Homo sapiens: one gene and its partners. The protein of the gene in region 6 interacts with the protein of the main gene of each other region in a biochemical or structural test. Each region holds a gene or a part of one and is shown on either strand. Other genes may lie near its edges. The genes, in order: CARM1, FOXO1, RELA, HNF4A, ESR1, CREBBP and PML.

Region 1 (4,256 bases), on a different chromosome or scaffold from region 6:
TTTTCTTTTTTTTTTTTTTGCACTGAAACCTTCATTCACAAAGTTCAAAACATAAAAGCTAAAAAAGAGCAGACAGCGTGCTCTCCTTCCCCACCCCAGCTCCCACCCCCAGCCCCATCATGAGAGAGGAGCTACGGCCACAAAGTCTGAGCAGAGCTATTCCGTGAGCGTCCTCTCGCACCAGTGGAGGCTGCACCCTCCATTCCCTGCTCTGCCTCTCCCATGGATCTGGGGTCGCCGGGGTCGTGGAGGGGCCATCTTTGTTCTGTCTTGCCGCCGCAGAGCACCCCTGTGCCCAGCCGTGCCGCTGTTGCTTTAGCTGCATTGTGTCCGCAGCGACACTCAGACTCCTTCCAGGTCTTCACGTGGCCAACGCTGCTGTCCTGAGCCCCTCTCCCACATGCGGTTGTGTCTGTAGGACACACCCTAGCCCTGGAATCGCTGGGTTGGGGGTGCATCCAGCTTTAGCTTTGGTGGCTGTTGTGATGTCTGCTCGTCCCCCTCTTTGCAGCCACCAGCAGTTGTCGACGCAGGGTGGGGGACCTAGGAGGCCGCAGCAGGGGACGGCCCTGAGGCAGGGCCGGGGTCACAGTGAACTCTCTTTTTTTTTGGGGGGGGTCTCACTCTGTTGCTCAGGCTTGAGTGCAGTGGTGCGATCCTGGCTCATTGCAACCTCCACCTCCCGGGTTCAAGTGATTCTCCTGTCTCAGGCTCCTGAATAGCTGGGATCCACCACTGCAACTGGCTAATTTTTGTATTTTTAGGCCAGGCATGGTGGCTCACACCTGTAATCCCAGCACTTTGGGAGGCTTAGGTGGGCGGATCACCTGAGGTCAAGAGTTCGAGACCAGCCTGACCAACGTGGCAAAACCCCATTAGCCAGGCGTGGTGGTGGGTGCCTGTAGTCCCAGCTACTCGGGAGGCTGAGGTGGGAGAATCGCTAGAACCCGGGAGGCAGAGGTTGCAGTGAGCCGAGATGGCGCCACTACCACCTCCAGCCTGGGCAACAGAGTGAGAATCTGTCTCAAAGAAAAAAAAAATAGTTTTTTTTTTTTGGTATTTTTAGTAGAGACAGGGTTTCTCCATGTTGGTCAGGCTAGTCTCCCAACTTATGAGGTCAAGCAGTCCGCCTGCCTCGGCCTCCCAAAGTGCTGGGATTACAGGCATGAGGCACCGTGCCCGGCCCACAGTGAGCTCTTAACAGGCTATGGCCAATCGCAGCCATGGTTGGGGCGCCAGCGAAGCAGGCAGAGGGGCACCCAATGCCCATGTGTGGATGGAGGCTGTCCCTTGAGAGCAGGTCTAGGGAGGGCCCCATGGCAGGAAGACGCAGGGAAGCCCACATGGCCCTGCCCGCCTGCAGGTCTTGGTGAAGAGTAACAACCTGACGGACCGCATCGTGGTCATCCCGGGCAAGGTGGAGGAGGTGTCACTCCCCGAGCAGGTGGACATCATCATCTCGGAGCCCATGGGCTACATGCTCTTCAACGAGCGCATGCTGGAGAGCTACCTCCACGCCAAGAAGTACCTGAAGCCCAGCGGTGAGCACTGGGGGGTACACAGGCCAGGCCCCTCGGTGGAGGCCCTGGCTGCCGCTGAGCCAGGCCATCAGTGCTTCAGCTCCCTGCTTACTGTCGGTGGCCCGGGGTGTAGGGAAGCCTGGGCTTTTCCCCCGCTCCCACCCCAACCCCACTCCAGCCAGCTGTGGCTTTTGGAGCCCTGGGCCCCAAACACGGCCAGACACCCAGCTGCCCACTCGCCCAGACAGGGTACACAGGATCTCCTGGCACCTCTGCCGTCCCATGTCCTGCTCCTGCGGGACAGCCTCTGGCTGGGAGTGGGGATTGGGACAGGTTCTGTGGTCAGCAGTTCCCCAACAAGCCCTGCTCTCCTCACAGTCCAGGAGGTGGGGTGGGCGAGCATGTGTGCAAATGCAGGGGTGTGGGTGCGAGTGTACGTGTGTGAGGAGGTGAGGTAGCTGTCTGGCAAGCCCATCTGTCACTTCCCATCCGTGCCTCTGGGTATGGCCTCTGGTCACTGGGTGACTGTTTCTTTTTTTGAGACAGAGTTTCACTCTTGTTGCCAAGGCTGGAGTGCAGTGGTGCGATCTCGGCTCACTGCAACCTGCACCTCCCCAGTTCAAGCAATTTTTGTGCTTCAGCCTCCTGAGTAGCTGGGATTACAGGTGTGCACCACCACGCCCAGCTAAGTTTTGTATTTTTAGTAGAGATGGGGTTTCACCGTGTTGGTCAGGCTGGTCACGAACTCCTGACCTCAGGTGATCTACCCGCCTCAGCCTCCCAAAGTGTTGGGATTATAGGCATGAGCCACTGTGCCTGGCCTGGGTGACTGTTTCTATTTGCCCATCTGTCTTGGGGTCTGTGCAGCCCTGACGCCTGAGGCATGTGCCTGTGGCTCTTCTCATGCTAGGTATGTGAGCGTCTGAGCATTTCTGTACAGGCAAGCAGCTGTGTGTGCGTGTGGCAGGGTACAGGTCCCCAGCCAGGGTAGCAGCCATGGGATGGAGCGTGGGCAGCAGCAGGCTGGTGGGGCTTGTGCAGGCAGGGGCAGGGGGGAAGCTTCCACTCTCATCTCTGGCCCGCCCTGGATCCAGGCCCTAGGGTCCTGGCTGGCTGTGCTCCTGGAGGTGGGAGGTGGCGTCCCACAGCTGTGTCTCATGTCTTGGGTGTGAGTATGGGAAGCAAGGCTGCTCCAGGGGCTGTGGGCCCCACTCTCCTCCCCTTCTGCCCTGATGGTGGGGATGGGGGTGGGGACAGCCCCAGCAGAGAGGGCCCCTCCCGATGGGACATGAAGCCAGATGGCAGTCAGGCTCTGTGGGCAGCTGCATGTGCCCCCGACGTCCCAGCAGCCAGCTTGCAGGGAGGGGGGAGGCCAGGCCTGTGCAAGGAGGACTCCTGTCCAGCTCAGGAAGCTCTTCCAGGGGTTAAAGGCAGCCCTCCCCTCTCCCAGTCACATGTCTTCTGGTCAGCAGGAGCCAGAGGTTCCTTCCAGGCTGGGTCACTTCCCATGGTGCCCCCAGGTCCCCCAGGGCAGAAGCCGCAGCATGTGCATCTCCCTCCCCGTTCCAGCAGCTGCAGCCCTGCAGCTCTCGCCTCGGGTACAGCCTGGTGGCGTAAGGAGGAGGCAGAGTCCCACTGATACCTCAGGATCTCCTCCCCCAGCTTGCAAGGCTGGGGGGCCCACATCTGGAGGCCAGGTGCTCCTTGGGGCAGGCGGGGCTGCGGGGCCCTGATCCTCCCTGCCACTGGCCCTGACTCATGCGTCTACCCTTGAGTCACAGAGGGAGGCCCTGCCCTTCCCTCAGTCTGTGTGCCCAGACCAGGCAGGCCAAGTGGCCCATCCTGCCGGCTGGGTGCCTGTGCCAGAACCTAGGCAGTCCCTGTGGTGTGGATTTGGCTTCCCCCACCTGGCTCTTGGCCTCAACTGAGGTCCCCAGCGGCGTTGGGGTAGCCCGGGGCCCACCACCCTCCCTCTGTCCAGAGCAACTTTGCTATGCTTTCCCGGCTGCACACATGCACAGACGGCAGGGCCTGAGAGGCAGCGCCTGGCCACATCCCGGGCACTGCCTGCTTCCCCGTGAGTCTTTGGCAGGTCCCTCACACCTGCCAGGTCTAGTAATAGGACATAAAGATGAGCCACCAGCCTCCCAGTCTCAGGTGGAATTCGTGAGCTGGTGCAGGTCAGGTACCCGTGGTGGTGATGAAACACTGATCAGAATAGGCGCTCGGTGCCACTGTCACAGGAGTGCAGGAACGAATGGATGACAGGCTGGGAGCACCCAGGGTTGGGGGTCTTGGGGTCCTTTGGAAGCTCTGCCAGGCAGTGTGGGATGTGTCACCTGACGCCAGCACCCCTCCCTGCCCCACTCCCAGGAAACATGTTTCCTACCATTGGTGACGTCCACCTTGCACCCTTCACGGATGAACAGCTCTACATGGAGCAGTTCACCAAGGCCAACTTCTGGTGAGTGTGCCCTGGGTGTCCCGCCTGGGCCCCACAGCCTGCCTTCTCAGGGACAGCCCCAGCTCCCCAGAGAGCCTGCACTCCTCTTTTTCTGAAAGACTTGGGCTAGATGAGGGCTGACTGGGAGAGAAGGCAGGGCTACCCCACCTGCCTCTTCTGCAGCCCTGACCTTGCTGTGGGGGTGGGGCCTGTCCACAGGTACCAGCCATCTTTCCATGGAGTGGACCTGTCGGCCCTCCGAGGTGCCGCGGTGGATGAGTATTTCCGGCAGC
Region 2 (4,256 bases), on a different chromosome or scaffold from region 6:
ACAAGGCCCTTCCTTCTGGGGAGCTCACAGCGTTTCCCTCGTCTCCTTTTCCACGTGTCCCACGGACTCCCCTGAACACCATCTTACTCTGTGTTGTAGAGGAGGTGAATCAAACCATGGCTTTCTCATCTGCAGCCTGGCTCTGGTGTTTCTGCTGAAACTTGGAGAGACCACCTCTGGCCCCTTTCACCATATATTTGCAGTTGTGGGTTTGTATCTGTACTACTTCTAAGCTCCTATACATACCACACTGAATAGGAATAGAGAAGCAGGACTTTGGGGCGCAGGATACCACTATTCTAAGTTGGGGTCTAATATTCCCTTCATGGTGACTGCTTACATGCCAGGCACCGCTGAGCATTTTTATGTATCTCATTTAGTACATGTAACAACCCTGATAAGGCTCTGTAATTTAGCCCTGCTTTACAGGTGAGGAAACTTAAGACACATTAGGGGCTAGGCAGCTTCCCAAGGTCACCTAGGTAAGTAAGTAGCAGAGCCACCCAGGAAGTACTCAAAAGAAAGATTGTTGGTTTTTCTTCCCTAGTTGGCCTAGGGATGATAAACATGGCATGATTAGTTATGAAGCTGCGGTAGCTTGAGAGTTAGAGCTCTTTGCGTTCTCTGTCATTTCTTCCCATCCCAGGTTGTCTGTTTGGACAGTGTAGCCCCTGGCTACGTGGAGGTGTGTCATGGAGTTAGTTGGTGCATCCTGCTCATACTACTGGTCATTGGTAGAACTGGAGGGTAGGGGCACTACTTGAATTAAAAAAAAATTTCTTTTGGCAGGTCAGCTTTCTCAAATACAAAAGCAATGACTCTGTTTTCCTTACATTCACTTGTATTTGCTTAATGGGCTTTAAAGGTGTGAATGAATCCAAGTCTTATTAATTTGGGGGCCTTTAATTCTTGATCAGCTCTATATTTCTATATTCTTTTTTTTTTTTTTTTTTTGGCGACAGAGTGTTTAACTCTTGTTGCCCAGGCTGGAGTGATCTCAGCTCACCGCAGTCTCCTTCTCCTGCCTCAGCCTGCCAAGTAGCTGGGATTACTGGCGCCTGCCACCACACCCGACTAATTTTTGTATTTTTAGTAGAGATGGGGTTTCACCATGTTGGCTAGGCTGGTCTTGAACTCCTGACCTCAGGTGATCTGCCTGCCTTGGCCTCCTACAGTGCTGGGATTATAGGTGTGAACCACCATGCCTGGCCTATATTCTATATTCTATATATTCTATATTCTTTTGTCTTTTTTGTTTCTGTAAGTATGTGGGCCCAGTAATATAAAACTTCTTTATGTAAATGGCACAGGTTCAAACTGAAGAGAATTGGCAGTAGTTTTAAGGATAGTAGAATGGAAGGGGTTTTTGATAGCACTTTGATACAGAGTACTATTGTAGCTAAGCAAAATTTAAGCGGTTATTAAAACCAATTCCTTTGATTTTTCCATAAAATGTAGCTGTATAAAAGAAGGTATTTACAATACTCTTTATTAAATTTTGTCCCTTCATTAAATTAAGATATAGAATTTTTTTTTTTTTTTTTTTGAGATCGAGTCTCACTCTGTCTCCCAGGCTGGAGTGCAGTGGCACGATCTCGCCTCACTGCAAGCTCCGCCTCCCAGGTTCACGCCATTCTCCTGCCCCAGCCTCCCGAGTAGCTGGGACTACAGGTTTGCACCACCATGCCTGGCTAATTTTTTGTATTTTTAGTAGAGATGGGGTTTCACTGTGTTAGCCAGGATGCTCTTGATCTCCTGATCTCATGATCCGCTTGCCTGGGCCTCGCAAAGTGCTAGGATTACAGGCGTGAGCCACCGCACCCAGCCACAGATATTGTTTTTAAGATAAGATACTATTTATTCCTGTGCTATTTGAGATCTTTTGTAGTGGCTTCAGAGCCATTAGGACTGTTCAGATGGAAATCTGTAGCACACACTCTTAAGATTTTTTACTTGTTTTCCATGTAATACATGTAGAATAGGAAGTTTTGCAAGCAGAGAAGTATTGTACTTCTAATAAGATGTTTTGCCTTACAGAATTCAATTCGTCATAATCTGTCCCTACACAGCAAGTTCATTCGTGTGCAGAATGAAGGAACTGGAAAAAGTTCTTGGTGGATGCTCAATCCAGAGGGTGGCAAGAGCGGGAAATCTCCTAGGAGAAGAGCTGCATCCATGGACAACAACAGTAAATTTGCTAAGAGCCGAAGCCGAGCTGCCAAGAAGAAAGCATCTCTCCAGTCTGGCCAGGAGGGTGCTGGGGACAGCCCTGGATCACAGTTTTCCAAATGGCCTGCAAGCCCTGGCTCTCACAGCAATGATGACTTTGATAACTGGAGTACATTTCGCCCTCGAACTAGCTCAAATGCTAGTACTATTAGTGGGAGACTCTCACCCATTATGACCGAACAGGATGATCTTGGAGAAGGGGATGTGCATTCTATGGTGTACCCGCCATCTGCCGCAAAGATGGCCTCTACTTTACCCAGTCTGTCTGAGATAAGCAATCCCGAAAACATGGAAAATCTTTTGGATAATCTCAACCTTCTCTCATCACCAACATCATTAACTGTTTCGACCCAGTCCTCACCTGGCACCATGATGCAGCAGACGCCGTGCTACTCGTTTGCGCCACCAAACACCAGTTTGAATTCACCCAGCCCAAACTACCAAAAATATACATATGGCCAATCCAGCATGAGCCCTTTGCCCCAGATGCCTATACAAACACTTCAGGACAATAAGTCGAGTTATGGAGGTATGAGTCAGTATAACTGTGCGCCTGGACTCTTGAAGGAGTTGCTGACTTCTGACTCTCCTCCCCATAATGACATTATGACACCAGTTGATCCTGGGGTAGCCCAGCCCAACAGCCGGGTTCTGGGCCAGAACGTCATGATGGGCCCTAATTCGGTCATGTCAACCTATGGCAGCCAGGCATCTCATAACAAAATGATGAATCCCAGCTCCCATACCCACCCTGGACATGCTCAGCAGACATCTGCAGTTAACGGGCGTCCCCTGCCCCACACGGTAAGCACCATGCCCCACACCTCGGGTATGAACCGCCTGACCCAAGTGAAGACACCTGTACAAGTGCCTCTGCCCCACCCCATGCAGATGAGTGCCCTGGGGGGCTACTCCTCCGTGAGCAGCTGCAATGGCTATGGCAGAATGGGCCTTCTCCACCAGGAGAAGCTCCCAAGTGACTTGGATGGCATGTTCATTGAGCGCTTAGACTGTGACATGGAATCCATCATTCGGAATGACCTCATGGATGGAGATACATTGGATTTTAACTTTGACAATGTGTTGCCCAACCAAAGCTTCCCACACAGTGTCAAGACAACGACACATAGCTGGGTGTCAGGCTGAGGGTTAGTGAGCAGGTAAGTTCACCCCAATATCAAAAGACCTTTTGAAAAATAGAACTTAAAAGCGAGGAACACAGTAACTTGCCATGGTTAGCACATCTTTGATGTCAACTGACTGTCCCTTGCAGAGAGGGATCTTTTATCATTCATTCTCTGTCCTTTTTGCAGCTTACAGTTTTCCTTCTGAGCTTACACAGAAGGAAGCTTCCTTTAACTGCTTTAAAGATTTCTTTTTGACAGTTCGATGGCTGCATCTTTTTAGTAGCTCTTCAATAAATGAATACATTTGATATAAATCAAATGCTGAAGGGTTTTTTGTAAAGTAGAATTTTCCCCATTGAATGATTTTAGAGCTGTTTGAGAAAGCTCTAGCTTTTTGCCCCTAAGTATGTCTGTCACTCTTAACATGTTAAGTTGAATTGATTTTAATTTGGCTATATTTTCATTGTGTGTGTATGTGTGTGTGCGTATGTATGTGTTTTTTCCTAGGTTACACTTAAAAGTACTTCAGATTGTCTGACAGCAGGAACTGAGAGAAGCAGTCCAAAGATGTCTTTCACCAACTCCCTTTTAGTTTTCTTGGTTAAAAAAAAAAACAAAAAAAAAAACCCTCCTTTTTTCCTTTCGTCAGACTTGGCAGCAAAGACATTTTTCCTGTACAGGATGTTTGCCCAATGTGTGCAGGTTATGTGCTGCTGTAGATAAGGACTGTGCCATTGGAAATTTCATTACAATGAAGTGCCAAACTCACTACACCATATAATTGCAGAAAAGATTTTCAGATCCTGGTGTGCTTTCAAGTTTTGTATATAAGCAGTAGATACAGATTGTATTTGTGTGTGTTTTTGGTTTTTCTAAATATCCAATTGGTCCAAGGAAAGT
Region 3 (4,164 bases), on a different chromosome or scaffold from region 6:
TCAGTACTCTCCCACTTTACCACTGGGAAACTGAGTCCCAGGAGGGGACATGACATTCAGGCCACAGTGGAGTCAGTGCTGGGTTCTGCCTCCTCTAGGACTTGTGTTTCACACACGCACCAGCGGCCCTCCCAGCGCAGAGCTCCCTGCCCCCACTGATAGCACCTATATCCCCACTTCCCCTGCTCTCCTGATCGCCTGTTTTCTTGGCAGTTCCTATAGAAGAGCAGCGTGGGGACTACGACCTGAATGCTGTGCGGCTCTGCTTCCAGGTGACAGTGCGGGACCCATCAGGCAGGCCCCTCCGCCTGCCGCCTGTCCTTTCTCATCCCATCTTTGACAATCGTGAGTAGCGAGGGAGACGCAGGAAGGGGAGAGGGTGGGCCTGAATAGGAGGAAGGGGGTTGGGGTGAGTGTGGCCTGCAAGAGGCGCTCTGGCTTCATTCAATCATCTTGCGTATTTGTCTACTCTTCTCTGCCCAGCTCTTTGTTGGCTGGGGAGAGAGGGCAAAGAAGACCCAGAGCTGTCCTTGAGGTGTAGCTCTGGCCTGGCAGGAAGTCTAGCAGAGAGTCTGATGGGAGATGGGCATTTTCAGTATTGTGTGATGAGAAGGTGGTGTGCCCACAACTGCGATAATGACTCTAGGAAATGAACTCCCAGGAACAAGATAGTGTTCGAGAATGATGATTCAGTGATGGAAGCCCACAGATGAATTGGGCTGACTGATCAGCTGCAGTCTTTAGTTAAGTAACCAGCAGGATGAATGGAAATAAAACGAATCTGGAGCCCCAAGGATGGGAAACCAGGATAAACTGGGGGTCAGGAGGGAAGGGCTCATTGCCAAGGTGGGTATGGACTGGCCTTAAAGATTGCTTTGGTCAGGTGGAGAAAGAGTGTGATCAGATTGGCACCCACTGGACTATAAGCTCCGGGAGAGCAGAGAGGTTTGGGTTTTGTGTGTGGTCGTATTCTTGCTTAGATCAGTGTTGAGTGCACAGTAGGCAAATACTTGTTGAATCGGTTGGGGTGAGGAGCTAATAAGAAGGTCTGACTTTGGCTACAAAGGTGTAGGTGGCAAGCTCTGGGCAACCTTGACTCTGGGCTGGGCAGGGAAGTTGCATCTCCTGCAGGCCACCCTGGGGACCTCTCGTGGCTCAGGTCATCCTCCCTTGTTTTCACTGCCTCAGGTGCCCCCAACACTGCCGAGCTCAAGATCTGCCGAGTGAACCGAAACTCTGGCAGCTGCCTCGGTGGGGATGAGATCTTCCTACTGTGTGACAAGGTGCAGAAAGGTATACATCAGGAGGCAGGGGTGGGCTCTTGGGAGCAAGGGGTGAAGCTGAGCAGAGAAGTGGAGTGTCAGGTAACTGGCTTTGGATACTTCCTCCTGTGCCTCGGGGGCCTCAGGTGGGCCGAAGGGTGATGTATCAGAAGACAAGCATCAGAAGTTGAGGGGGAGACCATGGAGGGTTAGACACACTGACCCACACTGCCACCGCATCTCCTGCAGAGGACATTGAGGTGTATTTCACGGGACCAGGCTGGGAGGCCCGAGGCTCCTTTTCGCAAGCTGATGTGCACCGACAAGTGGCCATTGTGTTCCGGACCCCTCCCTACGCAGACCCCAGCCTGCAGGCTCCTGTGCGTGTCTCCATGCAGCTGCGGCGGCCTTCCGACCGGGAGCTCAGTGAGCCCATGGAATTCCAGTACCTGCCAGATACAGGTACACAGCTGGGGTGGCAGCATCAGGGCAGCTGGGCTCTGTGCCGTGAGAGAGAGGCCAAGACTGCATGTCTGGGGCTGTGGTTGAGGGCCAGAAGCTGGAGTCAGAGCTTGGGATCCAAGAAACTGGAATCCATTTCTTGCCTCATTTAATAATAATGATACCTCAGACATTGAGCTAGTACTACACATCTGCCCCTATTCCAGGCACTTCACTGGATTACCTGATTTTAATCTCATGACCCTTTTGAAGTAGGAGATAGTGTCCAACTTGCCTGGGTTCACGTGGCTAGTAAGTAGCAGAGTCTAGCAGAGTCAGCGTTGGAACCCAGGCCATCTGGCTTCAGGATCCTTTTGCCACACTGGTTGTCTTGTCACTACCATACAGCCCAGCCACATTTTGGTCGAGGTTTGAGTGTCCACTTGGTACCAGGGCCTGTGCCAGGTATTGTGAATACAAAAAATGAGTAAGACATGCTCCCTGCCCTTCAGAGTCTCAGTCACTTGAGGAAGACAAATGTGCAAAACAGATCCTTAAGTCACGGAATGACATGTGAAATGGAGGTGTGCGCAGAGAAGCACGGGGGCACAGTGGCCTCCGGGGAGCTGGAGACAGCTGCATGGAGAAGGTGGCATTGAAGCTGGAGAAAGACACAGAAGTGTGTTCTCCAGGCAGGTGGCCCAGCACCTGGAAGGGAAGGGGTGTTGGCAACTGCACGGCCTATTCAGGGCCACCTTCGTGGTTTGAGCTGATGTTGGGCAGTGAGCAGGCTCAGAGATTGGAGGGCCTGGTTAAGCTGAAGGCCTCTAAGCAGAGAGGTGACAGGAGCAGATTTGGAAGTTGACTCAGGAGGCCACGTGTAGAAGATCAGAGACAGACAGACTCAAAGCAGGGAGGCCATTCTGGAAATGTTGCTGTAGTCCAGGAAGAGAAGATGCGGCACAAACCTTACAGAAGGAATAGCAGAGCAAGATCACATCTCCACCACTGTCCTCAGTTACCCTTCAGCCCTGCAGCCGTTTTGCGTCTTACAGACCAAGCTCAGTCTCACCTCAGGACCTGTGTCTAGCTGTTGCCTCTGCTTGGAATGCCCAAGGTTTTAATGCAAGTGGCTCATGCCAGTCCTTCCCTGACCTCTAAATTAGCCCTTCCCTCTACATTTAGACTGTCCTGACCTCACTTCCAGTATTGTTACATCACCATATCGTCCCTGGACCACCGTCACTTGAGATTTTCTGGTTTGGTTTTGTTTGTTTGTTTGAGACAGAGTCTCACTCTTGTCGCCCAGGCTGGAGTGCAGTGGTGCAATCTCGGCTCACTGCAACCTCCACCTCCCGGGTTCAAGTGATTCTCCCTGCCTCAGCCTCCCGAGTAGCTGGGACTACAGGCGCCCGCCACCACATCCGGCTAATTTTTTGTATTTTTAGTAGAGACGGGGTTTTCACCATGTTGGCCAGGGTGGTCTCGATCTCTTGACCTCGTGATCCACCCGCCTCGACCTCCCAAAGTGCTGGGATTACAGGCGTGAGCCACCACGCCTGGCCGAGATTTTCTGGTTTGTATATATGATTGTGTCCCTCTCACTTTTTCACTAGGATGCCAACTTTTTGGGAGCAGACACCTTGTGTGCATACTCACGGCCACATCCCCAGTGTCTAGAAGGGAGGCTGGCACATAGTAGGTGCTTGATAAATATATGTCAAGTTACTGGCGGGGAGTGAGAGAAAAGAAGATAATCATTCCAAGGTTTCTAGCTTTGGTGACAGGGCAGATGGCGGATGGTCAGGGAATGCAGGAGAAAGAACCTAGTTTTTGAGGGATGATGAGGTTGTCTTTGAATTGATGGAATTGAAGTGCTTTGGAGCTACTGAAATACCACTGTAATTAGAAAGACAGTTCTGAAAGCTCTGACTAAAATATGAAACCATTAGAGATAAGAATAAGAGTCTCTGCTGAAGTCTTAAGGCAGTTGTGCCTCAGCTGCCCCAGAGTGCCAAGAAATTCTCGCCAGGCCTGGGTGGAGGCTGACAATGAGCCAGGATGTGAGCAGTGCAGGAAGGTGTGAGCTGGAGGCTGGGGCCCCCCAGGTCTCCTCTTTGCCCAGAGCATGGCCCCTGTACTCGGCCTCACCATGTGGTCTTAGAGGGGCAGATTCAGCCAACAGAGGCCTCCAAAAGCTGTGGGATTCTCAGAACTGCTGAGTGTCACACATCCCTTCTCATTGGCAGAGAAGGTTGGGAGAATGGGTCTTGGGAAAGCCTGGCTCCTCCCCTTCCTCCTGAGGGACCTTTGAGAGCGTCGGGGACCCACCTGAGGAGAGCAAGTCCCACTTCTCCCCCTTACTTTCCCAGACGATCGTCACCGGATTGAGGAGAAACGTAAAAGGACATATGAGACCTTCAAGAGCATCATGAAGAAGAGTCCTTTCAGCGGTGAGATG
Region 4 (3,080 bases), on a different chromosome or scaffold from region 6:
TCTGTGGTGACCGAGACACAAGGCCACCCTCCTGTAATAGTTTAGCCTTGGAGAGAAGCCCAGTGGCTACAGATCTGGCTGGAGATTCTCAAGTGCATCTCTTGCTTTTATTCTTTTTACTTATTATTTATGTTTTGAGACAGAGTCTTGTTCTTTCATCCAGGCTGTAGTGCAGTGTTGCATTCATAGCTCACTGCATCCTCGAACTCCTGGGCTGAAGCAATCTTCCCACCTCAGCCTTCAGAGTAGCTGGTACTATAGGCACACACCACTATACCTGGCTAATTTTTAAATTTTTTGTAGAGATGGGGTCTCCTTATATTGCTCTGGCTGGTCTCGAACTCCTGAGCTCAAGTGATCCTCCCGCCTCAGCCTCCCAAAGTGCTGGGATTACAGAGGTGAGCCACTGTGCACAGCCTTGTTCTAGAAAAAAAAACAAAAAACAAAACAAAACAAAACAAAAAAACCACTTGCTTTTATGAAATGTCCCCACAGCTACTCATCTTCCATTGCTGGCAGATTGAGGTGACCCAGCAAAAGGTTCTGTCTTGAACCTTGGTGGAGGATGACAGACCCTTGGACCCTCTTGCCATTCTTCCAGATCTTGCCATTGCACTCTCCCCTCATCACTCCCCTCTTCAAGAAGGGGGATCAACTTTCACTCTCTCGATATACTAAGTACTTGGAATCAAGAGACCAGGGTTAGATGTCCACCTCTGCCTTCCAAGAGAAGTCACTTCCCCCAAGCCTCAGTCTCCTCATCTGGAAAGTGGGAGTAATCATGTCTAACTGCTTACCTCTTGATGTGAAGACTGAAAAATTATAATGGACACAAAAACATTCTGCACATCACAAAGAACTATAAAACTATTCTCATTCTTCCTTTAAAAAAAATTTTTTAACCCCCAAGTAGAACCAGAAGATTCAGTCTTATTTCTGATACCTGAAAGAAAAGATACTTATCCAAGGACTTAGAAAACATATGCGCCATTTATTTTGTTTTATAAACTTTTGTTAAAACACAGAAGAGTAAGAAATGTTTTTTGTTTCTTTGCCCCATCAGGCGGCAGTGATGGGGGCTCAGGGGTCAGCGCAAGACCTAATGACATTCACACCCACAGAAAGATGTGGGTCGTTCTGATGGGACCCAGCCCGCTTTGATAATTGCTTGATGTAAATTTCACAATTCATCTTAATCAGGGCAGATCACAGAAAAATTTGGCAAAAGTAATTGGCTTGGTAATGACAAGAAATAGAAGAGCGTTCATTTCTGACCCTCTCCTCTCCTCTGTCCACTCTCAGGAGAGCCATGCGGATTTTTAGAAGCTCCTGAGACCCGCCTGAAGATCAGGGTGTCTTGGTGGGGAAATTGTGCCCACGCTTGTCCCCCCAGCAACCCTCTGTTTGTCCATCAGATTTTATGTTTTAGGACCACAACTCAAGTAGCCAAAAAAAAAAAAAAAAAAAAAAAAGAGAGCGAGAGATTTTCTAATATCATGTCAGCTTAGAGTCAAAAAAGTAAACTTTGTTTTGTGTTTCTCACATTACAATAAAGTTATTAAGGTGGAATGGGTTTCTCCTCCAGAAAGGGGTAGATTCCCAGCAGAGAACTGACCCCCTGCTCCAACAGATTGTTCCCATGAAGGGCCACTGTTGCCCACGGCACTCCATGGGACATTCTTATCTCAACCTTTCTCCCAAGACAGAGGTCTGAGCAACGCTGGAGGGAGGAGGTGGAGGAACACAGTGGGAATGACCACAATGCCCAGAAATGGTTCCAGCCTCCCTGCCTTACCGCAGACCAGGCTGAGCCGTCTGGCAGGGATTTCAGGGGCACTTGAGTGAGGTGGTGGGGGAAGGCTTGGGAGCTCTGAGCAGGGCACAGTCTCCGCTGGGATTGGGGGCTTGGCTGGGACTGCCGTAGGGATGTGGTGATTCCTCCCTGACACATTGCCCCAATACTTCTCCACGCCTCTTTCTCATAAAAAACAATCACTAATGGTGGGATTTCTGGGCACTGGGGCACTGCCTCCAACCACTCAGAGGGGTCAGTGTTGAGCAGGGGGCAGGAGTCGGTCCAACAGTTTCCCTCCTACCTAATCACACCTCCAGCCCCATAACACATCCCTTTTGTTCACACTGGTCAGTGGCATTTTCCAGAATGTCCTCAAAGCCACCAAGATTCCACATGGATGACATGCTGGTCGCTCCATCCTGGGGTCTAATGCTTCCAGAATGCACCTGGAGTGACGGTCTCCGGAGCAGCCCTCAAACCCAGGCCTGCTTAGCCCTCCCCTGCCCCCACACTGTGCACACTGTCCCACCCCCATGCCAACAGGCCAGATGAGCCTGACTTCCAGGAAACAGACCCCTGCCACCCCTCCCCTTGACTTGGGGAGTGAAGAGAGAAAAGCTGTCAAGAGTCATGAATTCTCCTTAATATTTATCAGCAAACAGGATGCTCGACCCTAAGTGAATTTTAGTGCAGCCTCAGGCCAATCTTGGTCCTGGGAGTGGGCAGGGTTCCCAGAAGAACGAGTCTGGTTTCTGAGGCTGTAGAAGGGAGCCGGAAGCCCCTCAACTTGATCACGGTGAGAACACAGGGAGCCTTTGGAGAAGCTATTCAGCCACTGTAGTTAAGAGCTCCTGTTCTGATCCAGGGAGACCTGGGTTCAAGTCCTGACTCAGCCACTTCCTAGTTGTGTGAGTTTCAGAAAAAAAATCACTTCACCTCTTAGAACGCAATTTCAGCTTCTGTAACAATCTCTAGGTTAGGAGGGAGTGGGGCGGGTGAGGGCGGGGAGGGAGGAGGAGAATAAAAAACAAAAACAATCTCTAGGTTAATAGGGAGGAAGGGAGGATTAAATGAGATGATGCATGTCAGATGCCTTAAGACAGTGCCTGGGAGTAAGGAAGAGCTTGAGACAGGCCCTGGGAGCTTATTCCTCCTGGATGTCACTCTGATGTGAGGGTTTACCCATCTTGTCCTCTCCAGCCCCAAGCCTCATTACTCTCACCCGCATTATATCATCCACCCCACCTGACCTCCCAGCTTCCAGCCTCCCGTCCTCTGCAGAACT
Region 5 (3,802 bases), on a different chromosome or scaffold from region 6:
CTGAATAATTTTCCTTTTCAGGCATAATCTTTGCTACATAAGATTGTCTGTCATTCAGTATCCAACAATAGGCATCTGGATTAGTGCTATTTTGTCTACTGTGGATACAAAAGTTGATATGAAATGTGATCTTCATTTAAATGAATAATCACCAGGCTTTAGGCATAAATGACTGTATACATGACAAGGTAGCTTGAAAAGTATACAAAAAAAAAAAAAAAAACTAAATATTTTTCCTTGGTTTTTGCATGTTAACCCAGTCAAATTAAATCCAGAACAGAATTACTACATTCAATTGTCTGATAAACAAGCAATGTAATTTCAAAAAAATATATATTATACTATATAAGGTGCTTCTTAAACAAACTAAGGTGCTTCTTAAACAAACAGCAACAAAAGAATTATGTTCTTAAACATATCCTTAACACAGATACATAAAATTGTCCCCAAATTTAAGTGCACATAAAAACTTTTTTTTTTTTTTTGCCCTCCCAGATTCTCAGTCCTTTGGTGATCACTTAACTGGACAATCAGAAATGAATGAAATCCACTTTTCCAAACAAGACATACCAAGAGAAGCCCGAGCAGCTCACCTGGGTCATTGGCTAACACAGACATCACCTCTCAATAGGGTTTCAATTACAGACAATAAGGTCACCCAGAGGAAATCAAACATTCTTTTTTGTTAAGAAAAAGGAAGTAACCCATAATTGTGCTAGAGAAGCAAAGGCCCAGGGAAGGCTGCCCTGTGGCTGGAATGAGCCTTTCTTTTTTAGCCTATAGGTCAAAGGAAATTGAAGGAAATGAGCTGGCAGGAGTGGAGGCGGTAGGGAACGGGGCGGGGGAGGAAGGGGGAGGATTTTCTTCCCCAAACCAAACCCTGATTTTGGATTATCTCTAAACCACCAAGGGCATACGTAATCTGACCAGGCCCCAGTCAGCCTGAGTAGTGACAGCAACGGTCCCCACCCTTCTCCCGTGCCCCAGGGTGCTGGGCCAATTGTAGGAACACAGCTGTCTACAGCAGCTGTGACAGCTGCTTCTTCCAACCAGGGCCACGCTGGGAAATGAAGAAGAGCTGGACTACCCCAGGGATCCCAGGGCACCCCCAAAGGGCAATGCGGGGTCTGCAAGGAATGTTCCTAGGTAGCTGCAGCCTGTGGCAGGGCCACCCTGAGCAAGTCTGGCTGTGCCTCAGAACTGTATCCAGTTTCTGCCCTACTTTCCCTCTTGTTCTCTAGTAGCCACAACAATCCTGCACAAGTACTGTTCAGCTCCATGCCCCAGGGCTAAATGCAACACCAGGGCCCCTGCTCCTTTCAACTACCATTTACCCTCATCATGCATCACCACAGTGAACAGTTCACCCCTGTGTAAGGCACACACACGCCGGGAAGATCCAAGTACAGTGCCCACTGGAACAGGTCCTGAAGCTGACCTTACTGCAAGTTCAGGGAGGGAGGGCTTTCTTTTGTAACACAAAAATAAAAACAAAAATCAGGAACTTATCCCTCATATAGGGAGACTTAACTAAGATCAACTTGCTGCTCTCCATAGGTCCATGGGAGGCATGAATTAACTGGAACCCATGACCGGAAAGCCAGAGGCAGAGCTTTCAGCACATCTGAATCTGCAGTGTATCAAGTTAAAATAGTCTTGCCAACTAGGGGATCTGCCTTCCCTGTGTGCCCCTTGTATTCCTATAGGGGGAATGAATTGACAATCACCAGATACTCTGCTACAGTCATATAAAAGCTTTAAGGTGTACCACTTTCATAAAAGGATGCATTGCCATAGGAATACAAGAGGGTGCTATAATAAACCCTTGACCTAGCTTTCTCCAAGTCACCAATTAAAGGAGCCACTTTAAATTCTTTGCTGTGGCTTATTCTTAGAGCCATTTAAAAAGTGCTTATCAGAGGCAAAATGTCTACTCTCCAGGCCTGGGTCTCTACAAGTAGCTTAAATGCACAGAGTTATCTGAGCCCCAACCCATAGACTGAGTTCAGCTGTGAAGAGCTACGGGAATCCTCACGCTTAGTAACATAGCAAGGGGGAAAGAGAGCTGTTACAAAGATTTAGCCTTGGAATCCCTTTGGCTGTTCCCAACAGAAGACAGAAGATGTGCCACTAAGAACTGAGCAAGCAAATGAATGGCCACTCATCTAGAAAGCCATTGGTGTTGGATGCATGCCGGAGTGTATGCAGGAGACAGAATTTGGCTAAAGTGGTGCATGATGAGGGTAAAATGCAGCAGGGATTATCTGAACCGTGTGGGAGCCAGGGAGCTCTCAGACCGTGGCAGGGAAACCCTCTGCCTCCCCCGTGATGTAATACTTTTGCAAGGAATGCGATGAAGTAGAGCCCGCAGTGGCCAAGTGGCTTTGGTCCGTCTCCTCCACGGATGCCCCTCCACGGCTAGTGGGCGCATGTAGGCGGTGGGCGTCCAGCATCTCCAGCAGCAGGTCATAGAGGGGCACCACGTTCTTGCACTTCATGCTGTACAGATGCTCCATGCCTTTGTTACTGTAGGTGGGAAGACACAGAAAGGACTACTTTAGAGCCAACCCGAGCCCCAGGAGTGCTGAAATCCCTAGAAGGGGAAGGAAGAGGAACTCCAAAGACACTTAGCAATCTTTCTTTCTTCCTGTTTAAAGACCCACTTTAGGATGGGAGCTGGGAAAGCTGAGGGCTTTCAGAAGCCCTAATCTGGAACTCATGGCCGTGTGTTTTTCATTTTCCACCTCCTACCAGGGCGGTCCCACCCTCACACTCTCCCTGCAGCCACTTTCAGGGTATTTGCTATGCAGGTGACTTCCATGGACCTCCGTGGCCTCAAATGAGATCCTATTCCCCTCCAATAGGACCTAAATGCATTCAAATAGGATCGCCAAAGCTTCTAAAAAGACAACATGAGATATTCAGCCAAGCAGGAGTGGGTATTTTAAATGAGTAAAGCAGTTCAAGACGCTCCATTGTTAAATCTCTCACGTCACTTCCCATTTAACTCAGAATACGATCTAAATGCCTTTCCATGTTCAACAAGGCCCAACTGGTCCAGCTTCCATCCATGTCTCCAAGCTCTTCCTGCCTCTCTCCCCTAATGTGCTCTCCGGAGCCACACTGATTTTTGTGCTGCCCTTAAAGGAACTAAGCTCCCCCAAGACTTAGGGGACCTACACTTGCTGTTCCTACTTGCTGGGATGAACCTTCCTCCGGTCTTCAAATGCCGCCTCCTCGGAAAGGCCTACCGCTACCCAGTGGCAGCAGCCTCAAGCCTCTGCAGGCTCAGCCTTCCTCTTTCACACCGTTCTGTTTTTCTCAGCACTCTTATCACTGCCTGAAATTCTCCTTTTTATTTATTTGTGTTTATTCTCCCGCCTCCAAACACACACGTGCACACACTCACACCCTCAGTGCGAATTCCTAGAGAAGCAGGCTTTATCCTGTCCCCTGCTAGGCCTAAAACAGTGCCCAGAGCTCAGTTCACGTTCAGGAAAACAAGGGGGGAAATGGGCAGCGGGAAATGGGCAGAGGGAAATGTAGGCAAATGGCATTCTCCTTTCCCTACTCTCCTCCTCTGCTCTCCTCCACTAGCCACAACTCTGCTGCCCCACCACACTACTGGTGGCGGGGGTGGGGAGGAGAACAACTATTATCTAGTTTGAAATTTCTTTTAAAAGAAATATGTATCATGAGTAGCAGGACCAAGAGAAGGTCTTAGAAAAATTTGCATTTTTAGTAGGGGAAAATTCAGCTCAAGTTGGAGACTTGCCATGAAAACACAACATCAAAGCTATTC
Region 6 (4,256 bases):
GCCCGATCCTGGTGAATCCAAAGGGGAGCCCAGGTCTGAGGTGGGTGCCGCTCCCTAGGAATGCATTGACTGCGTATCGCAACTTTACCCAGGTGTCCTCGGGCGAGGCTTGGAGCCTGCCATGGGTATCCCTGACTTTAGTTAAAATATTCTGTTTGAATGTGGGTTCGGGGTTTGGTGTATAGGAAATTGATTGAAAACAGCTTGGTTTTTCATTTTTAAATATGAGGGGTGGGTTTATTTTGCCCGAAATGAAGAATACTGGCTTATATTTGAAATACTTGAATCATCCAACAGCCTTTTATTTTATGTTCTCCATTCATTTCTAGTTCTGCAGAGGTAGACTACAGAAGGGGTGGTGGATTCATTTACTAATTAACCTATGGCAGAAGCTGAAAGCTGGCAGACCGTGGGCTGGATCCAGCCTCTAAATGTGTTTGGCCCACACAATACCTTAAAAATCAGGAAATTGCAAATAAAACTCTAGATTTCTGGCTTTTCTTGAAAAATGAGATGCTTTCAGCATTGTGCCTGCATCCCTGTGTGACAGCAGTCTGGTTGTGAGCACCAACTGTAGTGGGCTCTCCAATTAGCCACAGTCCCCACTGCTCCTTCCTGTCTCATACCACACCTGCCTCTGAGAAGGACTTTTGGTCCCTGCCCCAACTTTCAAGGAGATTTTTATTCCAAATTAGAAATATCTGTAGTGAAAAATCTGAGTATGTGCAATTTTTAAAGCAGTTTTACATTTAAAAACTTTTAAATTAGGCTGGGAGCTGTGGCTCACACCTGTAATCCCAGCACTTTGGGAGGCCGAGGCAGGTGGATCACTTGAGGTCAGGAGTTCGAGACCAGCCTCGCCAACATGATGAAACCCCATATCTACCAAGAATATAAAAAATTAGCCGAGTGTGGTGGCACACACGTGTAATCCCAGCTACTCGGGAGGCTGAGGCAGGAGAATTGCTAGAACCCAGGAGGGGGAGGTTGCAGTGAGCCAAGATCTTGCCATTGCACTCCAGCCTGGGTGTTAGACTCTGTCTCAAAAAAAAAAAAAAAAAAAAAAAAAAAAAAAAACACTTTTAAATTTAGGACCATAATTGCACTGACTCTGTGCTGAAGCGACTTAATGAACACCAAGTACTTTATTTCTTCTTCCGGAAGAGAAGAGGAATCATAAATGCAACTCTGACTAGAGGAAGGTTTTAACAAACCTGTTTTAGGCTTGTAAGAGTCTTCCCGTGAGGTTGCGGTAACATAAAGGTGTTTGATATTCATATGTTATCTGTAATGTTTTTCTCAAGATGATGGAGGAGGATTTGCAAGGAGCTTCCCAAGTTAAAGAAGAAACAGACATAGCAGAGCAGAAATCAGAACCAATGGAAGTGGATGAAAAGAAACCTGAAGTGAAAGTAGAAGTTAAAGAGGAAGAAGAGAGTAGCAGTAACGGCACAGCCTCTCAGTCAACATCTCCTTCGCAGCCGCGCAAAAAAAGTAGGCCATTTATTCATTACCTTATTAAAGCATGCTGCTTTTCCACGGTGTTAGGATTCCATGTGGAGGATTAAAAGCTAAAGTAGAAACATAATTCTATCTGCCCTTTTACCTTTCTTGCCTGCCATTCCCCAGACTTTCCCCTGCAGAAACACTCAGGCTGAGCAGGACCCCTGCCCTGTGCCTGTGGGGCTCATGGCAGGAGTGAGAGATGAGCTGCTGCTCCGAGGGCACCCAGGCTGCAGAGCTGTCTTCTGATGGTGCTGGCAGGGGCCGAGTTGAAATGTGTCTGGGTCCTTGAGCAGGTTAAGGAGCTTGGCTTTACTCATAAAAGTATAAAGAACCAGTGATGTATGTGAGTAGGAGAATAACCAAAAAAGCCATAATTTAAGGAAGATGGTCATTATGACAGCACAGGGTGACTTGGAGGCAGAAGGTTTCTGCAGGTGCAGTGAGGAAGCTGAGCATGCAGAGTGAGGGGCAGGGTGGCGCCTAGGGACCCTGTGTAGTGAGACATGGGGGAGGGGTAGGTTAGGCATCTTTGGGGTCTGAGATGTGTGAGGTAAGCCCGCCTCACAGTGGAAGTTGGATGGAATCCATTTGAGATGTATCCACAGTAAAGAGATAACAGGGTATCAGAAAATTGTCAAGTGAACCTTAGAAATGGGAGACAGGACTCAGAAAGTCCAAGGCTGCAGATGACACTTTTGGGAAAGATTGCAGAGAAATGTTAGAGACTGAGACCATGTTACTCTGCAGCTGGAAGGGACCCTGGAGAGTGTGGAGTACAGTGAATCTCAGGGCTCTTTATACTCTTAGAAATTGAGGGCCCCAGAGAGTTGTTGTGTGGATTATCTATCATTGCTTACTCTACTGGAAACTAAAGTTGAGAAATTTGAGTACAGTGGCTTACACCTGTAATCCCAGCACTTTGGGAGGCTGAGATGGGAGGCTTGCTTGATGCTGGGAGTTCAAAACCAGCCTGAGCAACATAGCAAGGCTCCATCTCTACAAAACTAAAATAAAACTAGCTAAGTGTGGTGGTGCACGCCTATAATTCTAGCTGCTCGAGAAGCGGAAGCGGCAGGATTGCCTGAGCCTAGGAGTTTGAGGCTGCAGTGAGCCCAGATCACATCACTGCACTCTAGCCTGGGAGACAAAAGTGAGATTGTTGTCTGAAAAAAAAAAAGAGAAAAATTTTTAAATATTTAGTTCATTTAAAATAGTCTGTTACATGGCACCCATAGAAAACATTTATATGAAAAACAATTTTTCCAAAACAAAAATAAGTAAGAATAGTGGCGTTATTAAGGGTATCTGCCTCTGCATTTACTGTGTTGTGATTGGTTATTTTGGTTGAAGTGTATGAAGAAAATCCTGTAGTTGGTAAAGGGAGAAGTATTTTCGTAGCCCTTTCAGCTGATTGTGGATATTCTTTGATACTATACCAAAATTCAGCCAGTGAAGGTTTCTTAAAGGTTAGTTGCGACATTGAACCAGAATCTATAGCACTGGATTTTTCATAGTCTGTGACATTAGAATCCATTGATCCATCTTGTACTTGGAATGGATCTTTTGTGCTTGCATGATTTTTTTTTCAATTGACACTTAAGTTCTGCAGATTTTCCATATGTTGACATATTTCACTATACAGTGTCAAAAAAAAATCAACATTTGTTAATACCACCATCAGTCTCTTCAAACAAGTCTTACCAACTTAGAAAAGCAGGGCGTGCATGGTGGCTCACACCCGTAATCTCAGCATTTTGGGAGGCTGAGGGGGAAGGATTGCTTGAGCCCAGGAATTCAGGGTCTATGATTGCACCACTGCACTCTAGCCTGGAGCTCAGGAGTTCGAGAGCAGCCTAGGCAACATGGCGAAACCTAATCTCTATTAAAAAAAAATTAGCTGGGTATGGTAGTGCATGCCTGTAGCTGCAGCTACTCGAGAGGTTGAGGTGGGAGAATCACCTGAGCCTGGGAGGTCAAAGATGCACTGAGCCTTGATCATGTCACTGTACTCCAGCCTAAGTGACAGAGTGAGGCCCTGTCTCAAAAAATAATACTAATAATAAATTTTGAGAAGCTGTGAAGCCCATGTACAAGTTTTCCAAAGCATTTGATTTTTTTATGAAAGCCCAAATTTTAGCATTGGCAACAAATACTGTCAGTTGTCCTTGAAGTAACTGGCCCTCTTTGTTCATTTCTGAGAAAATGTCTGACATATAACCAGAGCTTAGTAACTATAGCTTATCTCTCAGTCATTCCTGAAAGTTTTAATGTGCTCCACGAGGGCAAGCAGCTACTTCAGCTGTAAATTCCAACACTTGCCCAAGTACTGCCTCCTGATGTGGCCACTGTGCCTATGCAGCGCACATCTTTTATTCTGTGTGAGGAGATAGGCAGAATGTTTCATCACACAGAATAAAAGACATGTACCAGGCGGCCAGACGCGGTGCCTCACACCTGTAATCCCCGCACTTTCGGAGGCCAAGGCAGGCAGATCACGAGGTCAGCAGATCAGGACCATCCTGGCTAATACGGTGAAACCCCGTCTCTACTAAACAAAATACAAAAAATTATGCGGGCGTGGTGGCGGGCGCCTGTAGTCCCAGCTGCTCGGGAGGCTGAGGCAGGAGAATGGTGTGAACCCAGGAGGCAGAGCTTGTAGTGAGCCGAGATACTGCACTCCAGCCTGGGAGACAGAGCGAGACGCCGTCTCAAAAAACAAAAACAAAAACAAAAACAAAACAAAAAAAAAA
Region 7 (4,256 bases), on a different chromosome or scaffold from region 6:
GGGTTCGCAAGGGTGATGGTTCAACAAGTGTTTATTGAGCAGCCACATCTGCCAGGTCTTGGGATAGCCAGTCCCTGTGCTCATGGGCTTAGATCCTGGCAGAGGCCTAGTGGAGAGGCTTGGGGTGGGGGTCGGGGCATGGAAGGCTGTGCTATTGGCCAGGGACTCAGAATACAGGAGAGTGCAAGGGTGACAGAAGTTTCTTTCTTGGGCAAAGAGGCCTGGAATGGTGGCTTGAATCTCAGCCATGCCTTAGCCTTCCCCTCTCAGCCAGAGAAGACCCAGGTCTCCCTGCCCAGAGGTCCATGCATAGCCATTCATTCGTTGATTCATTCCTTAACCAAGAATTAATGAGTGCTACTCTGTGCAGGGCCTGTAAGAGCATGGGCTGGAGGAGGCAGCTCAGGGGCCGGGCAGGGGTGTTGGCTGCAAGGTTACAAGAGAAGGGTAGCACTCTCAGAGGCCTGCTTGACGGGCGCCTGGGACTGGGCTGATGGGGGGCCTTTCTGGGGCACAGGGTGGTGGGAATGTAATTGGAGAGGCTTCCAGAGGCACTTGGACTTGAGAGGCCTCCATGGAGCCTCTGACAGAGTCCCCAGGGGGAACACCTGCTCCAAGAGTCTGGGCTCTGCTTTCCCCTGCCCCCACCACGGAAGACATGTCAAGCTGGGAAGCCATGGAGGAGAAGGGGAGGGCAAAAAAGTTGTTGAGCCACTGGGATAAATGGGAGGAGCCCCGGAGGGAGCGGCTGCGGGATCGCACAGCCCCTCGTATCCGGTGGGGTGGGCTGATGCCCCTTTGCAGCTGGGCAGGATGTTCCTGGGCATTGGCAGGATGGTTGAGGGGCCCTGTGATGGCAGGAGTGCTGGCTTGGACCACATGGGGAGACCAAGTCCGAATAGGGGCCCGATGCAATTGAGGGTGCAAGCGGAGGGCATGGCGAAGGCGGATGGCTCTCTGTGCTCTGTACAACAGGTAGCGGATCCCACGGTGGACGGCAGGGCGCTCCTGGTGATCAGGAGGCTCGCTGTGAGGCTCAGCATCGGGGGTGGCAGCCTGCTCAGCGGGCTGGTGGGGAGGCCAAGCTGGGGGGTGGTATGTGCCACAGGGCAGGCTGGAGGCTCCTTGTGCTCTCAGCAGAGACTGGACTGGCGAGGAGTGGGCTGGCGAGGAGTGGGCTGGCGAGGAGTGGGCTGGCGAGGACTGTGGCTCGGCGGTCTCCATGGGCTCCATGCACTTTCCAATACAGAACCTCAGACTGAGGGCTGGAAGAGACCTCAGGGGCCACCCAGTCCAACCTTTCACTCTATTCAGATCCCCTTTTCCCCTGGACAGGTGATAGTCCAGCCTCTAGTAATAAACCTCTAGGGACAGAAGGGTCACTACCCACGAGGCCACCTGTTTCACTGTGGAATGGATTTATATATCTTTCTACATGGATGGAGTCAAACCTCACTTGTTTGGCCCCTATATAGCTGCCCTGTGGCCTGACACCCCTTCACTGGCCCCCACTGGCTGTAATAAACCAAGGAATGGATTCTTGTCCAGCCCTCCTCACTGAGGACTTAGAGGACAGAAAATGCATAAGGAAGCTCCAGACAAAGGTCTTGGACATTCCAGAAAAGAGACAGGGCTCTGGACACATGCTATCAGCATTTCAGAAGAGCTCCTGGCCCTGGTGTAGTGGGAGGGCTGGGGTGGTCCAGGCATGCAGCTGTCATTTGGAGACTGTCCTCAGCACAGCTTGGGACTCAATGCCTCACTGGAAAATTCCCCAGGCGCAAGGCAAGTCTGAGAGTCACCTGCTGTGGCTGTGCCCCCTGGGACCTGAAATGGGGGGAGGCAGGAGTCCTGGGCTGAACTTCTGGGCCACTCACCGAGTTTTCGGCATCTGAGTCTTCCGAGCTGCTGATCACCACAACGCGTTCCTCTGAAACGGGGAAGGGGAGATGCATTATGAACTGCCTAGGATGCATGCTGGGAGGGGTGTGGGTGTGCACCTATGGGAATCCTTGCAGGCCAGTCGGCTGGGGGAAACGGATGCCCTGCAGGGGGACGGGAACAGCCACTGTGTGTGCCAATGTGACTCTGCTTTGCATTTGGATTTGAGTAATTCACAAATGGGTTTCCATAATTTCTTGCTGTGCCTTATCTATGAATATTCAATTAAGTTATCTGCCCAGAATTCAGAATTTGCCCCCTGTACAGGAGGCCTGACAACTGCTACCTGGTCTGGAACCTTCTGCAATCCTAAAGAAGCACACTGTCCCCATTCTCAGCTCCATGAGCTGGGATGTCTAGAGTTAAAAGACGCTTCATTTAGTTAATCAAAACCCATCGATTACCAATAGCATTTGTGGGTAAGGAATATCAGTCAGTGCTCAGTGTGTGACCAAGGCTAGGGCTCAGTCAGAATGAGGAACAAAGCTGTACTCTGGGTGAAGCAGATCCTTAGAACTCTCTTGTTCCAGATTCCTCTGGGTTGACCTCAACTCCTGCCCAACTGACTACCTGCCTGGCAGTGTTCATAGAAGATAACTCTGACAAATGAGATACTTAGGTAGGTGGCCTTTGCAGAAACACTTGGGGAAATGATGGGTGTAGACTGAGAGAGCAGAGTTAAGGTCATGGGGAGTCCAGTTTCCTGTTATGGTATGCCCAAGCCCTCTCTGGGAGTATGCTAGGCATCAGCCAACAAACTTCTTGTGGAGACCTGCCCTGTGCAAAGGCACAGTAGTGTTTGGGAGAAAGGACTCATAGAACTGTGCATTTTAGCCTGTCAGGCTCCCCACACCTCAATCATGGCAAAACACATGGTAAACTGTGTCCACTCTCACCCCCACGCACACTGTGAACTTTCCCTATCTTATTCAGTGGGAATAAGGGACTCCTGTTGGCTTTGGGCTTTCTGGATGGGGCCAAAATACAGAAGAGGGGCACCGCCCAGACCCTGGCGGGCAGCACCCAGGCCACTGCCCTACCCACCTCCCTACCTGCCTCCCCGGCGCCACTGGCCACGTGGTTGCTGTTGGGCAGGAAGACCTCACTTCCTATGACGGGGCTCCTGGGGCTAGGCGGTCCATCCAGGTGGGGTGGTGAGACTGCCTTGGAGGTGCTGGGCCTGGGCTGCTCCGGGGAGCTCCGAGCCAACCTTGCCTCCTTCCCCTCCTCAGACTCCATCTTGATGACCTTCCTGGGGCACTGGGTCTGGCTGCACTTCCTCTTCTGGGCTGTCGTTGTATTGGAGACATCCTGCATAGAGGGAGTCACAGAGCCAGGTCAGGTGCCTGCAGGGGTGAGTGGGCAGAGCCTGCCCTGACTGCCAGGGACTTGTGGCCACCCTTTTGCTCCTGCTGTCCCCTCTCCTCTGCTCTCAACCACGCAGATTACGTCTCTCTTCAGACAGGAAGCCTTCCCAAGCTGGTACTATCTGCTGTCCACCAGTCTCTGCTGGCCTCTGACAACCCTGAGTGTCTCAGCACCCCTGCTGGGCTGGGAGTGGGCCATGCTTATGGGAAGCTCCCTGACCATGCAGCCAAGAACAGGGGAGAGCACAGAGAAGGCGTTGAGCAAACACTTTCCCACAAAGAGCTGATCTGATGAAGGCCTGGATTCCCACCCCAGTGCCAGCTCACTTTCCTGGTGGAACTCAGGCCTTCAGGAGGGAAGGCTGGGGCTGGGGAGAACCTTACCTCTCCATAGGAAGGGCCTTTGATGGAGAAGGCGTACACTGGCACGGGGTGTGCCCCGGGCACTGACTGTACCACAGCCATAGGCTGGGCTTCAGCCAGCCCCAGGGCCTGAACCTGGGCCTTCACTCTCTCTGCCTCCTCGGGCTGCAAAGTTGGGAAAATTGAGTCAGAAATGACTAGGCAGCAGCCCCAGGGCCAGGTACCCCAGACCTGTGGTTGGCCTAATCCCTGGGGCCTCACCAAGTCACAGGTCCAGGCTCCCTGACTCAAAGCTCCGAGCTCACTGGGGACAAGAAGTCCTCCAAACTCTCCATCACATCACCTCCTTTTTTTAAAAAAATTTTTTTGTAGAGACAGGGTCTCACTATGTTGCCCACGCTGGTCTTGAACTCCTGGGCTTGAGCAATTCTCCTGTTTCAGTCTCCCAGAGTGCTGGGATTACAGGCACGAGCCACCGCGACTGGCATCACCTCCTTCTGACTCTGAGTTACTGGAGCCCAGGGACCACTTTGGTTGTTGTGTGTCCTAACAGGGCTGGAAGATACCCCAGGAATCACACTGCCC

The links.
Region 1: of the proteins of CREBBP (region 6) and CARM1, one has a biochemical effect on the other in vitro, tested with the Homo sapiens proteins (4 studies listed by BioGRID, with this or other methods).
Region 2: the proteins of CREBBP (region 6) and FOXO1 form a complex in vitro, tested with the Homo sapiens proteins (3 studies listed by BioGRID, with this or other methods).
Region 3: the proteins of CREBBP (region 6) and RELA form a complex in vitro, tested with the Homo sapiens proteins (9 studies listed by BioGRID and IntAct).
Region 4: the proteins of CREBBP (region 6) and HNF4A form a complex in vitro, tested with the Homo sapiens proteins (4 studies listed by BioGRID, with this or other methods).
Region 5: the proteins of CREBBP (region 6) and ESR1 form a complex in vitro, tested with the Homo sapiens proteins (2 studies listed by BioGRID).
Region 7: the proteins of CREBBP (region 6) and PML form a complex in vitro, tested with the Homo sapiens proteins (2 studies listed by BioGRID).

The regions. Positions count from the first base shown.
Region 1 is NC_000019.10:10,912,514-10,916,769, forward strand, and holds part of CARM1 (histone-arginine methyltransferase CARM1), read left to right. Parts: intron 1-1,363; coding exon 1,364-1,541; intron 1,542-3,893; coding exon 3,894-3,984; intron 3,985-4,182; coding exon 4,183-4,256. UniProt on the Homo sapiens protein: Methylates (mono- and asymmetric dimethylation) the guanidino nitrogens of arginyl residues in several proteins involved in DNA packaging, transcription regulation, pre-mRNA splicing, and mRNA stability.
Region 2 is NC_000013.11:40,558,642-40,562,897, reverse strand, and holds part of FOXO1 (forkhead box protein O1), read left to right. Parts: exon of another isoform or gene 1-209; intron 210-2,037; coding exon 2,038-3,375; 3' UTR 3,376-3,389; intron 3,390-3,863; 3' UTR 3,864-4,256. UniProt on the Homo sapiens protein: Transcription factor that is the main target of insulin signaling and regulates metabolic homeostasis in response to oxidative stress.
Region 3 is NC_000011.10:65,655,847-65,660,010, reverse strand, and holds part of RELA (transcription factor p65), read left to right. Parts: intron 1-213; coding exon 214-345; intron 346-1,188; coding exon 1,189-1,293; intron 1,294-1,511; coding exon 1,512-1,724; intron 1,725-4,075; coding exon 4,076-4,156; intron 4,157-4,164. UniProt on the Homo sapiens protein: NF-kappa-B is a pleiotropic transcription factor present in almost all cell types and is the endpoint of a series of signal transduction events that are initiated by a vast array of stimuli related to many biological processes such as inflammation, immunity, differentiation, cell growth, tumorigenesis and apoptosis.
Region 4 is NC_000020.11:44,430,737-44,433,816, reverse strand, and holds the end of HNF4A (hepatocyte nuclear factor 4-alpha), read right to left. Parts: 3' UTR 972-3,080; downstream 1-971. UniProt on the Homo sapiens protein: Transcriptional regulator which controls the expression of hepatic genes during the transition of endodermal cells to hepatic progenitor cells, facilitating the recruitment of RNA pol II to the promoters of target genes. Activates the transcription of CYP2C38.
Region 5 is NC_000006.12:152,097,456-152,101,257, reverse strand, and holds part of ESR1 (estrogen receptor), read right to left. Parts: intron 2,527-3,802; coding exon 2,292-2,526; 3' UTR 1-2,291.
Region 6 is NC_000016.10:3,764,958-3,769,213, reverse strand, and holds part of CREBBP (CREB-binding protein), read left to right. Parts: coding exon 1-40; intron 41-1,304; coding exon 1,305-1,494; intron 1,495-4,256. UniProt on the Homo sapiens protein: Acetylates histones, giving a specific tag for transcriptional activation. Mediates acetylation of histone H3 at 'Lys-18' and 'Lys-27' (H3K18ac and H3K27ac, respectively).
Region 7 is NC_000015.10:74,032,152-74,036,407, reverse strand, and holds part of PML (protein PML), read right to left. Parts: intron 3,837-4,256; coding exon 3,693-3,836; intron 3,253-3,692; coding exon 2,994-3,252; coding exon of another isoform or gene 2,986-2,993; intron 1,931-2,985; coding exon 1,878-1,930; coding exon of another isoform or gene 1,752-1,877; exon of another isoform or gene 1,237-1,751; coding exon of another isoform or gene 457-1,236; exon of another isoform or gene 402-456; coding exon of another isoform or gene 348-401; exon of another isoform or gene 14-347; intron 1-13.